Regions from separate parts of the Homo sapiens genome. Here region 1 is linked to region 2. Evidence: fine-mapped expression QTL. A gene starts in region 2. The other region holds a variant in brackets. All regions are shown on one strand. Distances are between the middles of the regions.

Region 1 (9,204 bases), 39 kb after region 2:
GAGGCAGAGGTTGCAGTGAGCCAAGATTCTGCCACTGCACTCCAGCCTGGGCAAAAGAGCAAGACTGTCTCGGAAAAAAAAACAAAAAAAAGCACGTGTCAAAGACTTAATTGAATTCATTAATTAATGAGAGAACTAGCAAGAAGTTACAATCAGCTCAAAGGAGATTTCAAAATCCCACATATATACAGGTCCAGGAAGAATGATGAGATAGGTTGAGTGCAGCAGCTCTCACCTGGGATCCCAGCACTTTGGGAGGTCAAGGCAGGAGGATCTGTTGAGCCCATGAGTTTGAGACCAGCCTCGGCAACACAGTGAGACCCTGTCTTTATCACACGCCCGTGTGTGCGCACACACACACACACACAAAATGCTGGCAGTGGTAGTATGTACCTATAATCCCAGCTAGGTGGGAGGATTGCTTGAGCCCAGGAGTTTGAGGCTGCAGTGAGATATGACCATACTACTGTGTACTCCAGCCTGGGCAACAGCATGAGACCTTGTCTCTAAAACGAAGAAAAAGAGAGATAAATGTATACATACAAAATTGGGCTTTTTCCCCTGTGGGAATGGGAGGGATGAAATAATCTTCCCTCCATATGACAGAATTAATTTGCAAGTCTTATGGACCAGAGTCATTTGTACTATATAATGAACTTTTCTTAAAACTTATTTTTGAAAGTCTAACCAAATGTCTCAAGAAGCATGAGAATATGTGAGGTTAGAACCCGCTCCCGCTTCCCCATTTCCCCTACTTTCCAAACATCCAACCCCATGTTAATTGCTTTATGCTATTTCAGCCTTATGACCCTGGGTGGCAGGTGCAATCCCATTTTACCCATGAGGAAGCTGAAGCTCAAAGCTAGAGCAGTTTGCTGAAGTTCACCCAGCTAATAAGACTGGATTAGGACTTAGGCCTGCCTGATTCAGGTTCTGTTCTCAGTACATGCTCATGCCAGGCATGGATGTCTTCATGTCCAGCACTCTGAACATGAGCTAGACTGCAGGTGGCTTGGACAGGCCTCAGAGTCTAGAACAGAGTGTCTCAAGGTGCAGAACCATGTTATGGAGATTAATCTGGTTGGTCCAAAGTAGTAGTAGAAAAATAAAAGCCTTATGAAATGAGCTGGGGTTTTGCATGAGAAAGTAGGGAGGTTCCGGGCATCTCAGTTAAGGTGGAATTGCAGGTCCTCGCACTAATCTTGATCCCATCTGCAGCATCTGTTCCTATTTGCACATCGCTCTAGAATTGATGAAATGCTTTTAGTGCTACCACCTCAGTGGTATTCAAATGTTATTAATGAAGAAAACAAACATAATGAAACCAATCCCTTCCAGGCCAGCATGGGAATAAGGGGGTGCAGGGAGGGGGTACACTCTTGTTTTTATTTATTATGTATTTATTTATTTTTGAGACAGAGACTCACTCTGTCACCCAGGCTGGAGTGCAGTGGCACAATCTCAGCTCACTACAACCTCTGTCTCCCAGGTTCAAGTGATTTTCGTGCCTCAGCTTCCCGAGTAGCTGAGATTACAGGTGTCTGCCACCACGCCCGGCTAATTTTTTGTATTTTTTAGTAGAGACGGGGTTTCGCCATGTTGGCCAGGCTGGTCTCAAACTCCTGACCTCAAATGATCCACCCACCTCGGCCACCTAAAGTTATAGGATTACAGGCATGAGCCACCAAGCCCAGCCTTGTGTTTTTTGTTTGATTGTTTTTTGAGACTGAATCTTGCTCTGTCACCCAGGCTGGAGTGCAGTGGTGCCACCTCGGCTCACTGTGACCTCCGCCTCCTGGGTTCAAGCGATTCTCCTGCCTCAGGCTCTGGAGTAACTGGGATTACAGTCACCCACCACTATGCCTGCCTAGTTTTTGTATTTTTAGTAGAGACAGAGATTCGCCATGTTGGCCATGCTAGTCTCAAACTCCTGACCTCAGGTTACCCGCCCTCCATGGCCTCCCAAAGTGCTAGGATTACAGGCGTGAACGCCATGCCCGACCTACTTCGTGGTTTTGACTTGCGTGCCCTCTCATTCCACCCAGGGAAGCTTTCCGCTGGGCCCTCTTCAGCATGCAGGCCACAGGCCACGTACTGCTTGGCACCTCCTGTTACCTGCAGCAGCTCCTCGATGCTACGGAGGAAGGGCAGCCCCCCAAGGGCAAGGCCTCATCCCTTATCCCGACCTGTCTGAAGATACTGCAGTGAAAGCCCAAGTCCTTGGAAGCTTTCCCCAGTGAAGGACTGACTGGGGGCCTCACGCTTAACTGGTAGTGCCCACAAGCCTGGCAGCTGTAGAGCCGCGAACCTCCCCACACCTCCCTCACCGCGCAGGACCCTGAGTGAGGAGGAGGAGCTGGAAACCTGGGGTGGGTTGGCCAAAGGAGAACCTCAAGCTCCTGGCCTGATCCAGCTCCTTCCTGCCCAAGGCAGCTTAGCCCATCCAGACTGGTCCTGAAGTCTGTCCCTCCATTGGCATGAAGTCTGCCCCTTAGCAATCTGGCCTCGCAGGCTGTACTTTCATGGTGCTCTCTACCTTCTGGCCCCCATCCCGGAACATTCCTGAGTGAATTCGCAAGCGCACTAGCATGTGATATTAGGGAGTTTGCAATAAATTATTGAGGCTGATGTATCTTCTTTGCCTGTGTTCTTTGGGGTGGGGTTTTATCTGGAAGGTTGGAGGGGGCTAAAGGAAGAGACGAATCTATTGTCAAAGTATTCTCTTTAATGTAGGATTACAGCTAATGGCACTTTTTCTACCAAAGAAGAAAAAAAAAAACAGCTGGGCACAGTGACACGTGCCTGCAGTCCCAGATACTCAGCAAGCTGGGGTGGAAGCATCCCTTGAGACCAGGAGTTCAAGGCCAGGCTGGAGCACAATAGCAAGACCCCAGGCTCCTTAAAAAACAAAATTGCAGTTGATTTTGAAACTAAAGTCAGCTGAATTTGAGGCTTGAGCTGACCATGTAATTGATACCATAAGTAACAATTTCCTAATTAAATTCACCTATCAGAGGAGCTTCAATTGAGCAGGTGGGATTAAGTCACTCTTCTAATTTCTCAGTGTCCCATTTTATAATAACCGTTTAAGTGGTTAGGTGAAAAAGTACTACTCAAGCTGTAAGGCATTTCTCCATCAATGCCCATCCTAACTTGCCAGACAGCTTATCTTTCATGTTCAGGACTTTCAACCTCGGGATTTCAAAGTGGGCTCATAGGTAGCCCCAAAGAGTAGGAGCTTCTCATCAGTGTGAGCTGGCATTTTCCAGTATTGGACAACTCAAGACAAGCATGAAAGGCTGAACTTAGGCTGGGCATGGTGGCTCACGCCGTAATCCCAGCACTTTGGGAGGCCGAGCCAGGCAGATTACCTGAGGTCAGGAGTTCAAGACCAGCCTGACCAACATGGTGAAACCCGGTTTCTATTAAAAACAAAAAAATTAGCTGGCCAGCATGGCAGGCGCCTGTACTCCCAGCTGTTTGGGAGGCTGAGGCAGTAGAATCGCTTGAACCTGGGAGGCAGAGGTTGTGGTAAGCCAAGATCGTGCCACTGCACTACAGCCTGGGTGACAGAGCGAGACTCCATCTCAAAAAAAAAAAAAAAAGGCTGAACTTGTAGAACTTGTAGGTGACTGTTTTATTTAGTCTGTGACTGAAAGATTTAAAAACTTGGCCAGGTGCAGTGGCTCATGCCGGATATCCCGGCACTTTGGGAGGCTGAGGCAGGAGTATCGCTTGAGGCCAGGAGTTCAAGAGCAGCCTGGGCAACATAGCCAGACCCTGTCTCTACACTAGATAATAAAAAAAAATTAGCAGAGCATGGTGGCTGTAGTCCCAGCTACTCAGGAGCCTGAGGCAGGAGGTTCACTGGAGCCCAGTAGGTCGCGGCTGCAGTGAGCTATGATTGTGCCACTGCACTCCAGCCTGGGCAACAGAGTGAGAGCCTGTCTCTGGGAAAAAAAAAAAAGAGGATTCAAAAACTCTATCACAGCCAGCCGCAGTGGCTCACGCCTGTAATCCCAGCGCTTTGGGAGGCCAAGGCGGGTGGATCACAAGGTCAGGCATTTGAGAGCAGCCTGGCCAACATGGCCAAATCCCGTCTCTACTAAAAGTACAAAATATTGGCCGGGCATGGTGGTGGGCACCTGTAATCTCAGCTACTCGGGGGGCTGAGGCAGGAGAATTGCTTGAACCTGGGAGGTGCAGGTTGCAGTGAGCCGAGATTGTGCCATTGCACTCTAGCCTGGACGACAGAGTGAGACTCCGTCTCAAAAAAGAAACAAACAAACAAAAAACGAAAAACAAAACAAAACCTATTGTTTCACTACTCTTACTATAAAGCCTATTTGGATGTAGTAAATACTAAGGCAAAGGCCTATATTACCAAAGATGGTCTGGGAGCTATTTATGGCAGCGGACCCAAACCCTGCAGCCTATGGGCAAAGCGGCTGAAGCTCGCTGAAGAGGGCCTGCTATTC[C/T]GGGCTCTCCTGCTCTTTTGCAGTTATGGCTGGAGGCTGGCCCGGTGCCAGGCTGGCTCCATGGGGTGGGCTGTCTGGCAGGGAGGCCTGATGTTTGTATTAGCACAGAAGCTATCCCAGTCCACCCTTGATGAAGCTGTGGCGGGGCCTACCTGCTCCTTCCGTAAAGTGCTCAGTAACAGAGTTGGAGTGGGGGTGGGAGGCTCGGTATTTGTCCCAAGCTTCCCTCCTCCTGAGATCCGGAGTTTCACAAGTGAATCTTGAGCAACTGCCCATGGTCTCTTGGCATTGAGCCCAGGGAAAACAAGGTTCTTTCTTTTCTTCCAGGAGCTCGAGGCTAATGGAGTCAAAGCAGCTGTGGTCAGTGAACAGAAAAGGCAGCCTCTGATGAGGCTTGGGGGCTGGGGAGGGAAGATTCCAAACAGCAAAGGAGTTTGAGCCTCTGTAGGGCCTGGCGGTCCTAGTGGGGGAACGGCCTTTCCTGGGGCCCCCCGCACAGCCAGGAGCAGCTGTCGTCAAGGTGGACTGTGTCCCAGCCCCTCCAGCTCAGCCTTTTCATCTGTTCAAGCTGGTGCTCGGGAGTGCACAGGATGCCTTTCAGAAGAATTCTAAATCCCGGGGGCCTGTGATGCCACAGTCACATGTCTGAGCCCAAAACAAGAGAACCACTTGTGTTTTTGCCACTCTTCTTACCAGCGATGCCCATATTTGTGCATATAATTTTTTTTTTTTTGAGACGCAGTCTCACTCTGTCGCCTGGGCTGGAGTGCAGTAGTGTGATCTCGGCTCACTGCAAGCTCCGCCTCCCGGGTTCATGCCATTCTCCTGCCTCAGCCTCCCAAGTAGCTGGGACTACAGGCACCCGCCACCACGCCCAGCTAATTTTTTGTATTTTTAGTAGAGACGGGGTTTCACCGTGTTAGCCAGGATGGTGTCGATCTCCTGACCTCGTGATCCGCCGGCCTCGGCCTCCCAAAGTGCTGGGATTACAGGCGCAAGCCACCGCGCCCGACCCATATATGTATTTTTTGTGGGGTGGGGGAAATACTGATTCTGAGATGTGTGCTGCCTGGAATCCCATGGCCACCGTGACCAGGGTTGTAGGGGGCCCAGGGGCCCAGGGTCTTTGATGTCAGCCGCATCTCCTGGCCAGCATTGACCCAGGGGTCCCACGTCAGCTGGTTTAGTGGGGGCCGCTCCCTGGGGTCGAGGCTGAGGAATTGTTTTACTAGTGTTTCCAGTGGAAACGAAGAAATAGGTGGAGAGTCATACTGTCACATAGCCTGAGGCGGGAAGGGACCACGGGTGGGGCTGGATGTTCTTTCAGCCTCCCTGGCAGAGATCACTGACAGAGTGGTCAGCTTGGCCAAGCTTCTGCGGTGGATGGCTCTGATGTAGGGGAGGGAGGCAATCCCCAGAGCAGGAATGGGTTCCCAGGGGCCCCTATCCTTGCAGGGGAGGCGCTGGCCATCCTCCCCTCAGAGCCTTCTTCACTGCAGCCCGTAGGGGGGCGAGTGACCTGGAGGATCCGTGCCCCAGGGGCAAACCTCTGGGCTCTGGCTTCAGCCCCACCCGGGAAAACATTCACAGCTCCTCCGGAGAAGCGCCCTGCTGCAGGAAGACTCTAGGGCAGGGCCCAGCTGCGAGGCTACTGGCCTGTTGGTGACAGTACCCCAGGCTTCAAACTCTCTGGGCCTGTTGGCAATTCCCTTCCCTGGGTACAACAGATTCCCACCCGGCCCGCCCTTCTGCTCGCCCCACGGGGAAGTGGCCCAGGAGTGGAGGCGTGGACAGGCATCCCGATGGCTCAGAGTCGGGGTCAGCCTGGACAGCACGGCCTCTGGGGGTCAGACGGGGAGCGAGGGGAAGGTGCCAGGCTCCAGGACAGCCCTTGACAGGCGGTCTGACGGCCTCGGGTCTCCTCTTTTCTGGCCTCGGGGACGGGGCCAGGCGGCGGTGAGCCGCGGGGGGCGGGGCTTTAATGGCCATCGGCCCCACCCAGCCTGCGCTGGGAAGCGGAGACAGGGACGCCCCTGCTCCAGCAGAGCCTGACCCCTGCGGGCTGCCGGGGCCGCCTCCCTCTAGGCGCTGCTGCGCCCACACGGACAGGCGCCCTCTGCGGGTCCCGCGGCTCCCGGCCCCATTCAGCGCCTCCAGATGCCTCACCCGAGCCCTCTCCGCTGGGTCCCCGGGGCCTCAAAGCGCCGACCAAGCCGGGGAGTCACTCCCCTGAGCCACCCGATCTTCCCATGGATCCTTTGGATCCCTGGGTTTTGGAGTTTGTCCTTCCTAAGTGCCGCCTGCCTGGACGCGACTGCCCCAGGACCACAGCTGACCCAGTGCGGCTGCGTCCCCTGCGGGCCACCATCAAGGGCACAGGCATCAGGTCCCCCAAGACTCAGTGACCCGCCCTGCCCGGGGCTGACCCTCAGGGTGGGGAAAGGCCACTAACTCTGGTCCTCTCCCCTTCCTCAAGGCTCCTTCCTCACCTGGGGTGAAGGGCTGCCAGTCCCAGCACCTCAGGGGCCTTCCTGTTTCATTTATACCAACAAATAATCATTCAGTGTGCTGGGACAGAGAAGACAGACACGCTGGCCCCCGGGTGGGCGAGAGAGACTGGTCTGTAAGTGCAGAAAACTCCCAATAGGGACGGGCTAGGAAGGAAACACCAGGAAAAGTGAGGGTGGAAGATGGGGGTGACCCTACTGCAGATGAGATGCTCAGGGAGGGCTTCTCTAGGAGAAGGTGCCATTAACTAGATTGACAAAACGGAAGGGCAGGGCCTGTGAAAGTCTTCTAAGAGAGGGACTGGCAGTGCCCAGGGGGCTGTCGTAGGGATGGAAATAGGACAGCAAGATGGGTGTGGGGAGTGTGAGCCTGGCAGACAGGACCCAGGCTCTATGTGATGGGTGCAGGGGGGGGACCCACGGAGGCCCTGAGAAAGCCCTGGGCCTCAGAAGACAGGGAAACAAGAGGACCCACTTAGAGGCCCTCACAACCTTTGCACAGACAGTGTAAAACGGCTCAGGCCAGAATGTGGTTTAGGTTTCAGAAGGGTGCTGTGTCCCCCACCCTCTTCTTGAGGCTAAAGGGCTCCAACTCCTTAGGCGATTACCACATGGTTCTGGGGCCCCACAGACAGCCTTCTGATGGTTTTTGTCTGTGGCCAGGCAGGGGGCAGGGGGTGACTGCCCCTTCCTTGGCCAAGGGGACAGATAAAGGGAGCCTCTGGGGGCAGGATTGCTGGACTAGGAATCAGACTTGGAGCGTAATCCAAATGCCCCACTGGCCCTGCCTCTTCTCTGGAGCTCAACTTCTTCAAGAAAACTGGGGACAAGAGATGGCAAGACCAGCTCTCAGGACCCTTGCCCCTCCACCCTGTGACACTTTTAGACTGTTCTCAGGGGCCACCTTTTTCAGGAAGAATTCTCGGGTTACAGGAAAGTAAAGGGAGGAGCTGTGTTTTGAGTGGCACTTCGCTCAGGCTCTAGGCTAGGTGTTGGTTTGGTGGGGCTTGCTTTTCCACCTGCCCCAGCCCGCTTCACAAAACCTGAGTCCTGGCTAGGGCCAAGAGTGAGATTCCTGTTTCTAGATTTTCATCATTCTGTGTTGCACAAAACAAGGTCTGGTGGGGGGTGGGGGGTGGGTAAGGAGACAGATATTAGCAAGTATATAATAAAGAAAATTGGCAGGGCATGGTGGCTCATGCCTGTAATCCCAGCACTTTGGGAGGCAGAGGCGGGCAGATCACCCGGTTCACCATGGCCAACATAGTGAAACCCTTTCTCTACCAAAAATACAAAAATTAGCCAGGTGTGGTGGTGCTTGCCTGTAGTCCCAGCTACTTAGGAGGCTGAGGCAAGAGAATGGCTTGAGCCTGGGAGCTGGAGGTTGCAGTGAGCTGATAATGCACGACTGCACTCCAACCTGGGGGACTGAATGAGACTCCATCTCAAAAAAAAAAAAAAAAAGAAAAAAAGAAAGGCCGGGCACAATGGCTCACGCTTGTAATCCCAGCACTTTGGGAGGCCGAGGCGGGCGGATCATGAGGTCAGGAGATCGAGACCATCTTGGCTAACACGGTGAAACCCCGTCTCTACTAAAAAAAAAAAAAAAGATAATTTAGCCAGAGAAAACCTAGAAGAGGAATCAGGATGGGAGGATTAGGAATGGCAGAGGAAGGTGGGGATGGGGGTGGGACAAATAGAAAGGAGGTGGGGGAGGGGGCCAGGGAAATAAAATCCAAGAGATCAGCGGGGATCAGAAGCCACAGCCTTAGTGGGGACCTCAGGAGAGCAGCAACCTGCATCTATCTTGGAAAGGTGGAGAGAGAACTGCAGTGACCTCATTGGGGAGGAAGGGGGAGGTGGCAGGGCAGAGGAAGCAGGGGACAAACAGGAGGAAGAGATGGTGCCCTGGGTCAGGTGGCCGCCACTGCTACCATCAATGGAAGTGGAAAACTCTTTGCCTTCTCCTTACACCTGTCACCATGACACGACACCCCCATGCTTTCTGCCCACCGCCCCCACCTTCTTTAGTAAAGGTGCTGGCAACTAAGGAGCAGAGTCTGATTTGAAGTTGCCGAGGAAACCATCATGGGCAGCTGTGAAACCATCAGGCTTGCCCAGCAGGGAGCTCAGGTTCCCCAAATTGGATGAGCAAATCAGTTTCTGCAGGCCTTGCTGTCCAGGCAAATAAGATGAGGGCAGGGCCATGTGGTTGAGGT
Region 2 (9,204 bases):
ATTAGCTCTAGGTGCTCTAGGTGGAGTTGGGGGGAAGGAGACAGGGAATACATTCCTTTATTGAGGCCCTACTATATGCCAGGGAGTGTAGAGGGTGCTAGAAGTATTAAATCAATTAACTCCATGCTAGCATCACAGTGATCTTATGAGGTATCCTCACTGTTATAAAAATGATAAGCTGAGGGCCTCAGGGGTTCAACAGCAGTCCCTGCAAATGCTACCAACTGTATACAATGGCATCCATGACAAAGGGAGGTTGAGGTGGGATGCTGGGGCCCAGGTTGGGAGAATGGGAGACATATCACTCTCTGAGTGGCAGGAACAAAGGGAGGGAGATGGAAGGGTACCAAGACAGATGTGATCATTTTGTTATGTTCTTAGGCGATACAACCTCTTAGGGGAGCTGAAAAGGCTTTTTAAATTTTTAATTAACAATTCTTTTTTCTTACTTGTCACTAACTTGAAGCTCAAGGAAAGGCTTCTTAATGCCTGAATCACACTGAGGATCCTCTCATTGGGGGTAAATACCATACTAATCTCTCTGCTCATTCATGGTCATTCATGGCTGCTCCAGGTCTCTGCCTGCCTTTCCTGTTCTTCCCGGTGACAAGGCCGTCTGCCTTTTCTGTCTAGTCCAAAGAAGTCTTTAAATTTAATTTAATTAATTAATTAATTAATTTATTTATTTATTTTTAGCAGCAGGGTTTCACTATGTTGCCCAAGCTGGTTTTATACTCCTGGCTTCAAGCAATCCTCCTGCTTTGGCCTCCCAAAGTGCTGGGACCACAGGTGTGAGCCACCATGCCACGCCCAAAGAAGTCTTAATGATAGACCCTTCAGCTTGTAAGGAGGTCTTGGACAGTTACCATCCCTCTCTGGGCCTCAGTTTCCTCATTTGTACAATGGGTGGCCTCTTTTGCTAGCACTGTGTGATCGGGCTTTTTACAGGGGGATGACACACCATACCTGGACATCATAGGGACTGCTCAGCTCTTCACACTCCAGTGCCCACTGGTGACAAAGACGCACGCTGACCTCAGGGCCTGAAGATATGGTCACCCGAATAGCCCGGGCCTCAGGCAGCAAATCAAAGGAGAACTCGGGTCCTGGGGAGAGGAAGGACTCAGTGGCCTTGTCTCTTGGCCTTAGCACTGGTACCACCACTCAGCTGAACCCATCTCCTGTTGTACCCAGTGCCCACCTCCATGCCTTTGTGAGTCCAATCTGGGAAGACTTTCCCATGTCTCTGGATCCGAAGGTTGGGTCCTTTTAGAGCGAAGTCCCTTGTGGGAGATGTCTGGGGAGGGGATGGAAATGTGATGGCTCTTCTCAGACAGGTGACGACGAGGCAGCAGCTTCCTCTAAAGGCAGAGAACAAGGTTGGCCTCAGGCCAGAAATCAGGAAACCTGGCTTCTGTTTCTGCCTCTGGAACCTGAGGTACTACAGGCAAGTTGCTCAAACTCTTTTGGCCTCCCTAGCTGTGTAATAGACAGAATACTTCATCTCCACACTTTCTGTCTCACATGGCTGGAGAACCAAATGAGAGGCCAGAAAGCAAAGGTCTGTGGGGCGTCAGGTAGGGCTGGAACTGACAGGGAGAGTACCTGAGCAGGTGCTGGCATCTTGTGTCTCCTATAGAACTTGAATGTGGAAGACTTTTTGGATTTCTGCACCAGGAGGTGGAAGAGGCCCCGTTGAAGACCTGTGCAGGGGAGACGTACTTACTATCTAGCCCTCATTACCCCCTCCCCTGCCTGGAGATGTGGCCCAGTGTTAGTAAGTAATTTTATTTTATTTTATTTATTTATTTATTTTGATATGGAGTTTTGCTCTTTGTTGCCCAGGCTGGAGAGCAATGGCGCGATCTCGGCTCACTGCAGCCTCCACCTCCCAAGTTCAAGTGATTCTCCTGCCTCAGCCTCCCAAGTAGCTGGGATTACAGGCATGTGCCACCATGCCCGGCTAATTTTGTATCTTTAGTGGAGACGGGGTTTCTGCGTGTTGGTCAGGCTGGTCTCGAACTCCCAACCTCAGGTGATCCGCCCGCCTCGGCCTCCCAAAGTGCTGGGATTACAGGCATGAGCCGGCCTGATAGTAAGTCGTTTTAAATCAAGGAGGGTAAGGATGTCAAGCTTCTTTAATCTTGAAAATTATAAAGCAATCAAGAAAAGATTAATTTCTTAAGCAGAGAAAAAGCTATATATACAAAGATATTCATTTTAGCATTCTTTAATTTTTATTTTTTGGAGACGGAGCCTTGCTCTGTCACGCAGGCTGGAGTGCAGCGGCGCGATCTTGGCTCACTGCAATCTCCGCCTCCTGGCTTCAAGCGATTCTCCTGCCTCAGCCCCCAGAGTAGCTGGGACTACAGACGCCTGCCACCACGCCCAGCTAATTTTTTGTACTTTTAGTAGAGACGGGGTTTCACCATGTTAGCCAGGATGGTCTCGATCTCCTGATCTCAAGATCTGCCCACCTCAGCCTCCCAAAGTGCTGGGATTACAGGCGTGAGCCACCACGCCAGTCCCTGCCTCTCTCTCTTTTCTTTCTTTCCTTCATTCCTTCCTTTGTTCCTTCCTTCCTTCGTTCCTTCCTTCCTTCCTTCCTTTCTTGACAGGATTTTGCTCTGTCATGGAGGCTGGAGTGCAGTGGCACAATCACTGCTCACTGCAGTCTTGAACTCTTGGGCTTAAGCAATCCTCTCACCTCAGCCTCCTGAGTAGCTGGGATTACAGGCATGCACCATCACACCTGGCTAATTTTTGTATTTTTAGTAGAGACGGGGTTTCACCATGTTGGCCAGGCTGGTCTCAAACTCCTGACCTCAGGTGATCTGCCCGCCTCAGCCTCCCAAAGTACTGGGATTACCGGCATAAGCCACTGTGCCCAGCCCTGTAGCATTATTTCTAACAACAAACAATTAGAAAAATTAAACACTGCCTATTCTTTTTTTTTTTTTTTTTTTTTTTTTGAGACAGGGTCTCACACTGTCATCCAGGCTGGAGTGCAGTGGCGCTATCTTAACTCACTGCAACCTCCACCTCCTGAATTCAGGTGATCCTCCCACCTCAGCTTCCCAAGTAGCTGGGACTTCAGGTGTGCACTACCACATCCAGCTAATTTTTGTATTTTTTTGTAGAGATGGGGTTTGGCCATGTTGGCCAGGCTGGTCTCAAACTCCAGGACTCAAGCGATCCACCCACCTTGGCCTCCCAGAGTGCTGGGATTACAGGTGTGAACCATCATACCTGGCCCAGAAACTGCCAATTCTTTTTTTGGAGATGGAGTTTTGCTCTTGTCGCCCAGGCTGGAGTGCAATGGCATGATGTCGGCTCACTGCAACCTCCACCTCCTGGGTTCAAGTGATTTTCCTGCCTCAGCCTCCTGAGCAGCTGGGATTACAGGTGCCTGCCACCAGGCCCTGCTAATTTTTTGTATTTTTAGTGGAGACAGGGGTTTCACAATGTTGTCCAGACTGGTCTCGAATTCCTGACCTCAGGTGATCAGGCTGCTTCAGCCTCCCAAAGTGTTGGGATTACAGGCGTGAGCCACCGCGCCTGGCCTAGAAACTGCCAATTCTTAAGCAATGTAAGGGCATTTAGTATGTACCAGGCACTGAGCTGAGCAATTAAAATATAGAGTAAGAAAGAAGATCCTGCTCTACAAATAGATGGTAATAACAATAAATCCATAGCTTTTAATTCCAAGAATCTCAGCTGAAAAAAAACCTTCATAAAATTGTACAATTGTATTTGTGAATATCAGTCATAGCGTGCTATTTTAGGATAATCCAAGTCCCAGTTGAGGTTAAAACAAGACAAATATCTGTTCTAGTAAGTCCCACTTGCTCAGCCTAGGTGGTCCCTCAAAATGTTCTCTTCACTGAGAATGGCCCAAGGGGCTGTTTCTCATACCTGAGCCACCTGACAGCAGATGCTGGCACAAACAGCGGGAACAGTGCCAGACTCGCACACACCAAGGCTTTGTGGAGAAGAGGGCCCACCAGGTGCGGCAAGGGATATAGGCAGAACTTCCTGGGAAAGATGGAAGGGAAAGCAAATGATAGGGTCTAAGAAGGTCCCTCCTACCTCCAACAAGCTGGATTTGAGGCCAAGCTCTGTCACATCCTGGAAGTATGACTTTGGGGGTTACAGGACCTGTCTAAGGATCAGATTCCTCATTCATAAAGCGGGTCTGTTATAAAAATCAAAATTGTAGTGTATGGGAAAATGTCTTGTGAAGTAGAACATACCATAAAATAGGAAGGATTATTGTTGTATTACTGATAGAAGTGAGGGATCAGTTAAGGGGAGGAGCCAACATATATGGAGAACCTGGAGATTTACTCATGTTTCTCATCTAATCCTCTCTACAGATCAGAAGCAACACTGCCTTTAGTGTACAATCATTTCTACTATGCTACTACCCCTCAGAAACTGAGGGTCAGTTGGAGGGGTTAGGTGCACAGTCTGAGGCCACACGGGAGTCTGGCAGAACTGCAATGTGAACCCAGGCTTGTCATGATTCCAAATTTTTCCTTGATATTGTGCTACTTCCCGGGTTGGGAACTGAAAATTAGAATGGAGGGCTTGCTAGGCATCTGCAAAAATAGTGGGCGTGGGGAGGAGCAATGGGGCAGGAAATGCGACTCACCAGTGAAACTGTCATCCTGAGGCACAGGGCCCAGTAGGGAAAAGAAAGGAAAGAGCTATTATTAGGAGAGACTCCCATAAGGCACATTCCTGGGGTCTTTGCTTCAAATCAGCAAATTCTGAGCCCCATAGCTAATAGCCCATACCTTCTGGCTCTTATCTTCCCAGCTCCACCCTGTCCAGGCCCTCAGCACAAAGGACCTTGGCTACCCCTTTGAGACTAGGTAGAGGACACATCAAAGCTGCCACCAGAGCACAGGGACTGCGGAGGTAGCACAGGGCAGGCAGGGGAGTGGGGAGCTTTATGGCTGTGCCAGGCAGGTGTCCCTACCTGGCAGCAGCACCTTACCGTGTGGGAGGCCAGAGGACAGCGGGTGTTCCAGTGGGGCAGGTGGCGAAAGCCAATCCCAGCAGAGTCAGAGAGGTCGATGACTATGAGGAGGAGAGGCAGGAGCAGGGCTGCCAGTCTGGAGCTCCCCATGGGCTTCTGTGCAATTAGGGCTCCCGGAACATGGCTGCATGGCCTGAAGGTGGGTGGCAGGGCCTTGCTGTGCAGCAGCGAACACAGTACCAGCAGGAGCCCTCGCCCCAGCCTGCCCTGGCCCCGCCCTGCCCGAAAGCTCCTCCTTGATCCCAACCAGCCAGCCAGGCCACATTCCTTCCCCTCCAAGTGGAGGGACTGAGGAAAGCTTGTGCCCCCAAAAACCCTACTGCCCCCCACCTGAAAGACAAGGGGCTCCTGCTGTGGGTGAGAAGTAACAGGAAAGGGGCTAGCATCAGGTTGGGGGACGCACCCATTTCTTAGCCCCTCCTACTCCTGAAACACACTGCAGATCTGATCCACCCATCAGCACACTCTGGAACTTGTGTCTCCCATAGACATGCGCTTCACCCCCTCACTTAGAGAATTAGCCGAGCTCTTAAGCACTACTCAGCACTGGGTGCTGGAGATACAGAGGTGACTGAGGCACCATTTAGAGTGGGGAAGAAAAAAAGCACTCTAGGATGCACATGAAGCCCATATGTACCCTGGCTTCCCAACTGGTTAACTCTCAGGACTATAGCCGAGTTCTCTCTACCCATGAGCCAGGTCCAGCTCTTCTAGGCAAAGGGCTCCATACCAAAGGGGCCTCTAGCTTCAAGGACCCACTAGTCAGTACGCCCTGCTCAGGAAGCCCCAGAGCTCACAGCTGAGCCCTGGAGCAGAGGGAGCGGGCCCCACACACTGACCTGGTTTCCTGTGGTTTCCGGTGCTGGAGAAAGGCTGACGAGGCTCCATCTTTGTGGGAACCCTCCCCATCATCCCACAGCTTCCTCCCCTTCATGGAGCATTTGAGCAGCTTCAGCCCTCACCTTGGTAACACACACACTGGAAAGAAAGTTTGGGGCACACCTACCAGGTCAAGGCATCTTTTTTTTTTTTTTTTTTTTTTTTTTTGAGACTGAGTCTTGCTCTATTACCCAGGCTGGAGTGCCGTGGCACAATCTCTGCTCACTGCAACCTCCACCTGCTGGGTTCAACCGATTCTCTTGCCTCAGCCTCCTGAGTAGCTGGGAGTACAGGCACCTGCCCCATGCCTGGCTAATTTTTGTATTTTAGTAGAGACAGGGTTTCACCATATTGGCCAGGCTGGTCTCGAACTCCTGACTATGTGATCCACCTACCTTGGCCTCCCAAAGTGCTGGGATTACAAGCGTGAGCCACGGCGCCCAGCCAAGGCATCTTGAGATTGTTATTGTCCCCCTGCAATTCAATCTAGACCACCTTTCAGTGGCCTAACCACAGCCTGCTTTTGGCCAATTCTATTCCTGTCTTTAGGTTCATTGTCTGAAGGCTGCATCCTACCCATTATCCTAAAAGTACCCTCTAGCTTTTTGAGTTCATGAAAAGATAAAAACTCTTATTCTTTATGTTTCTCCAAGCCTAGCAGTAGATATTATGAAGTATGTGCTGTGTAATTGAATAAATGTCATGATACATTTCATCTATGTAGTTTATCTGTTTCACACTTCACAAAACACTTTTATATTTAATCCTCCTAACCCTACCTGTGAGACAGGTAAGTGTTAATTATTGTTTTCATTTCATAGAGAGATAAGGAAGCAGAGGGATAATGATTTGGACAAGGTCAAAGTCTATAGTTCAGGGAGCTCCCCTTTTGCTAGGCCCTCGCAACTCAACTCTCTCTTTTTTTTTTTTTTTTTTGAGACAGAGTCTCACTGTGTCACCCAAGCTGGAGTGCAAATGGTGCAATCTCAGGTCACTGCAATCTCCACCTCCCAGGTTCAAACGATTCTCCCGCCTCAGCCTCCCGAGTAGCTGGGATTACAGGTGCACGCCACCACACCAGACTAATTTTTGTATTTTTAGTAGAGACGGGTTTCACCATGTTGGCCAGGCTGGTCCTGGACTCCTGACCTAAGGTGATCTGAGCCCAGCTTGGCCTCCCAAAGTGCTGGGATTACAGGCATGAACCACAGCACCTGGCTTTTTTTTTTTTTTTTTTTTTTTGAGATAGTCTTGCTCTGTTGCCCAGGCTGGAGTGCAGTGGTGTGTTCTTGGCTCACTGCAACCTCCGCCTCCTAGGTTCAAGTGATTCTTGTGCCTTAGCCTCCTGAGTAGCTGGGATTACAGCTGTGCACCACTATGCCTGGCTAATTTTTGTATTTTTAGTAGAGACAGGGTTTTGCCACATTGGCCAGGCTGGTCTTGAACTCTTGGCCTCAAGTGATCCACCTGCTTCAACCTTCCAAAGTGCTAGGATTATGGGCATGAGCCACTGTGCCCGGTACCAATTCTCTATCATCCTATGGTCTTCCCTCACACAGCCTCATCTTCCTCTGCTCTTGGAACCCAAAAGGGGCTGCCTGACACAGACCCTAACACAGTATGCCTTTTGGCCTTGAAGTCCATCTCTGCAAACAAAACAGTAAGATCTGAAAGGAGGAAAGGGTGGTCTGGCCATACTAAGAATAGGTTAGAGAGCCTTCCCCCAAATTCTACCTAACTCACAGTGGTTTAGAGCTATATAAATATGAGGTTTCTTTCTTTTCTTTTTTTTTTTTTGAGACAGAGTCTCACTCTATCACCCAAGCTGGAGGACAATGGCGCAATCACCACTTACTGCAGCCTCAACCTCCTGGACTCAAGTGAATCCTCCCTTCACAGGCACACACCATTTTGCCTGGCTACATATAGGGTCTGGCTATGGTGCTCAAGCTGGTCTCAAACTCCTGGCCTCTAGCAGTTATCCTGCCTCAGCTTCCCAAGGTGCTAGGATTACAGGTGTGAGCCACTGTGTCTGGCCAATAATGAGTTTTCTTTTTTTTTTTTTGAGACGGAGTCTTGCTCTGTTGCCCAGGCTGGAGTGCAGTGGTGCGATCTCGGCTCACTGCAAGCTCCGCCTCCCAGGTTCACGCCATTCTCTTGCCTCAGCCTCCCGAGCAGCTGGGACTACAGGCACCCGCCACCTCACCCGGCTAATTTTTTGCGTTTTTAGTAGAGAGGGGGTTTCACCGTGTTAGCCAGGATGGTCTCAATCTGCTGACCTTGTGATCCGCCCACCTCGGCCTCCCAAAGTGCTGGGATTACAGGCGTGAGCCACTGCGCCCGGCCCAAATAATGAGTTTTCTAATGCTGGAGGCATGAAGTGAGAAACTTGGTTCTATTCCAAAACAATCCTTCTTCTTTACCCTTATCTTCTGATCTCTCACAGAGAAAATATTGGTTAATTGCTTCTGGTTAAGGTATGGGAGGAGAAGCAGAAAAGAAATGGAGATAAGAAGGAAGAGAGGAAGGGAAAAAAAGGAAGGAAGGAAAGAAGGGAGGGAGGGAAGAAAGGAGGGAGGGAGAGAAGGCAGCAGGGAGGGAAGGAGGAAGGGAGGAAAGAAGGGAGGGAGGGAGGAAGGGACGGAGGAAGAGAGGAAGGGAGGGAAGGAGGATGGGAGGAGAGAAGAGAGGGAAAGAGGGAAGAAAGGGAAGAAAAACAGCATTCCAGGACCCGCTGGAAAAGTAAAAGGAATAAAGGTGAGGAAGAAAGGGGGAAAAAGAAAAGGACGTGTGCATTTTATTTATTGTCTTGCTGGTTTACTTATTTATTGTAGAGACTGTTCCAAAAAGTATTTAAGGTAAGAAGCACAGGGGTGAATTCTGGCACAACCTAAGGAAGGGGAGGGATGGGATCAACATTTGCTGAAATCCTACTATCAGGCTCTGAGTCATGCATTTTGCCCAGTTTATTTTATTTGTACTACAACCCTTGAGTTCACAGTCTTATTACCCCATTTTACAGACTGCAAAACACTCAGGAAGATTAGGTAAAGTCCAAGCACACACACCTAAGAGCTGAAGTCAGCCCCTCACTTGCTGATCTCTCTCCTACGCTTACGCTCTGAGTTCCTCCCCACCCTTGCCCTCACCCCACATTGCCCCCTCCTATTTGGTGCCTGGCCAGCTCAGGCAGCTTGCGTCACAGTAAAGTAAAGCCAGAATGAGTTTTAGGTCTGAGTGAGATTGGAAAAGCCATTCCTCTGACCCTCCCCACCTGCTCC

What was found.
Region 1: its variant is fine-mapped to the expression of IL17RE in tibial artery (GTEx, PIP above 0.99). The same link has a PIP of 0.9 or more in aorta.

What each region holds. Positions count from the first base shown.
Region 1 is chr3:9,860,138-9,869,341 of GRCh38, reverse strand. It overlaps CIDEC (cell death inducing DFFA like effector c), which reads left to right. Exons shown (of 7, transcript NM_001321142.2): 7 at 2,046-2,628. The coding sequence ends at 2,208. Among named protein-coding and RNA genes, the nearest start is that of CIDEC, 16 kb to the left of the region's middle. RefSeq lists silencers at 4,963-5,257, 6,363-6,657. The variant C/T (reference allele first, on the strand shown) is at 4,479.
Region 2 is chr3:9,898,863-9,908,066 of GRCh38, reverse strand. IL17RE (interleukin 17 receptor E) reads right to left here and starts at 5,219. Exons shown (of 16, transcript NM_153480.2): 1 at 5,003-5,219; 2 at 4,655-4,670; 3 at 3,916-4,035; 4 at 1,606-1,703; 5 at 1,202-1,361; 6 at 967-1,106. The coding sequence starts at 5,134. RefSeq lists an enhancer at 4,346-5,015.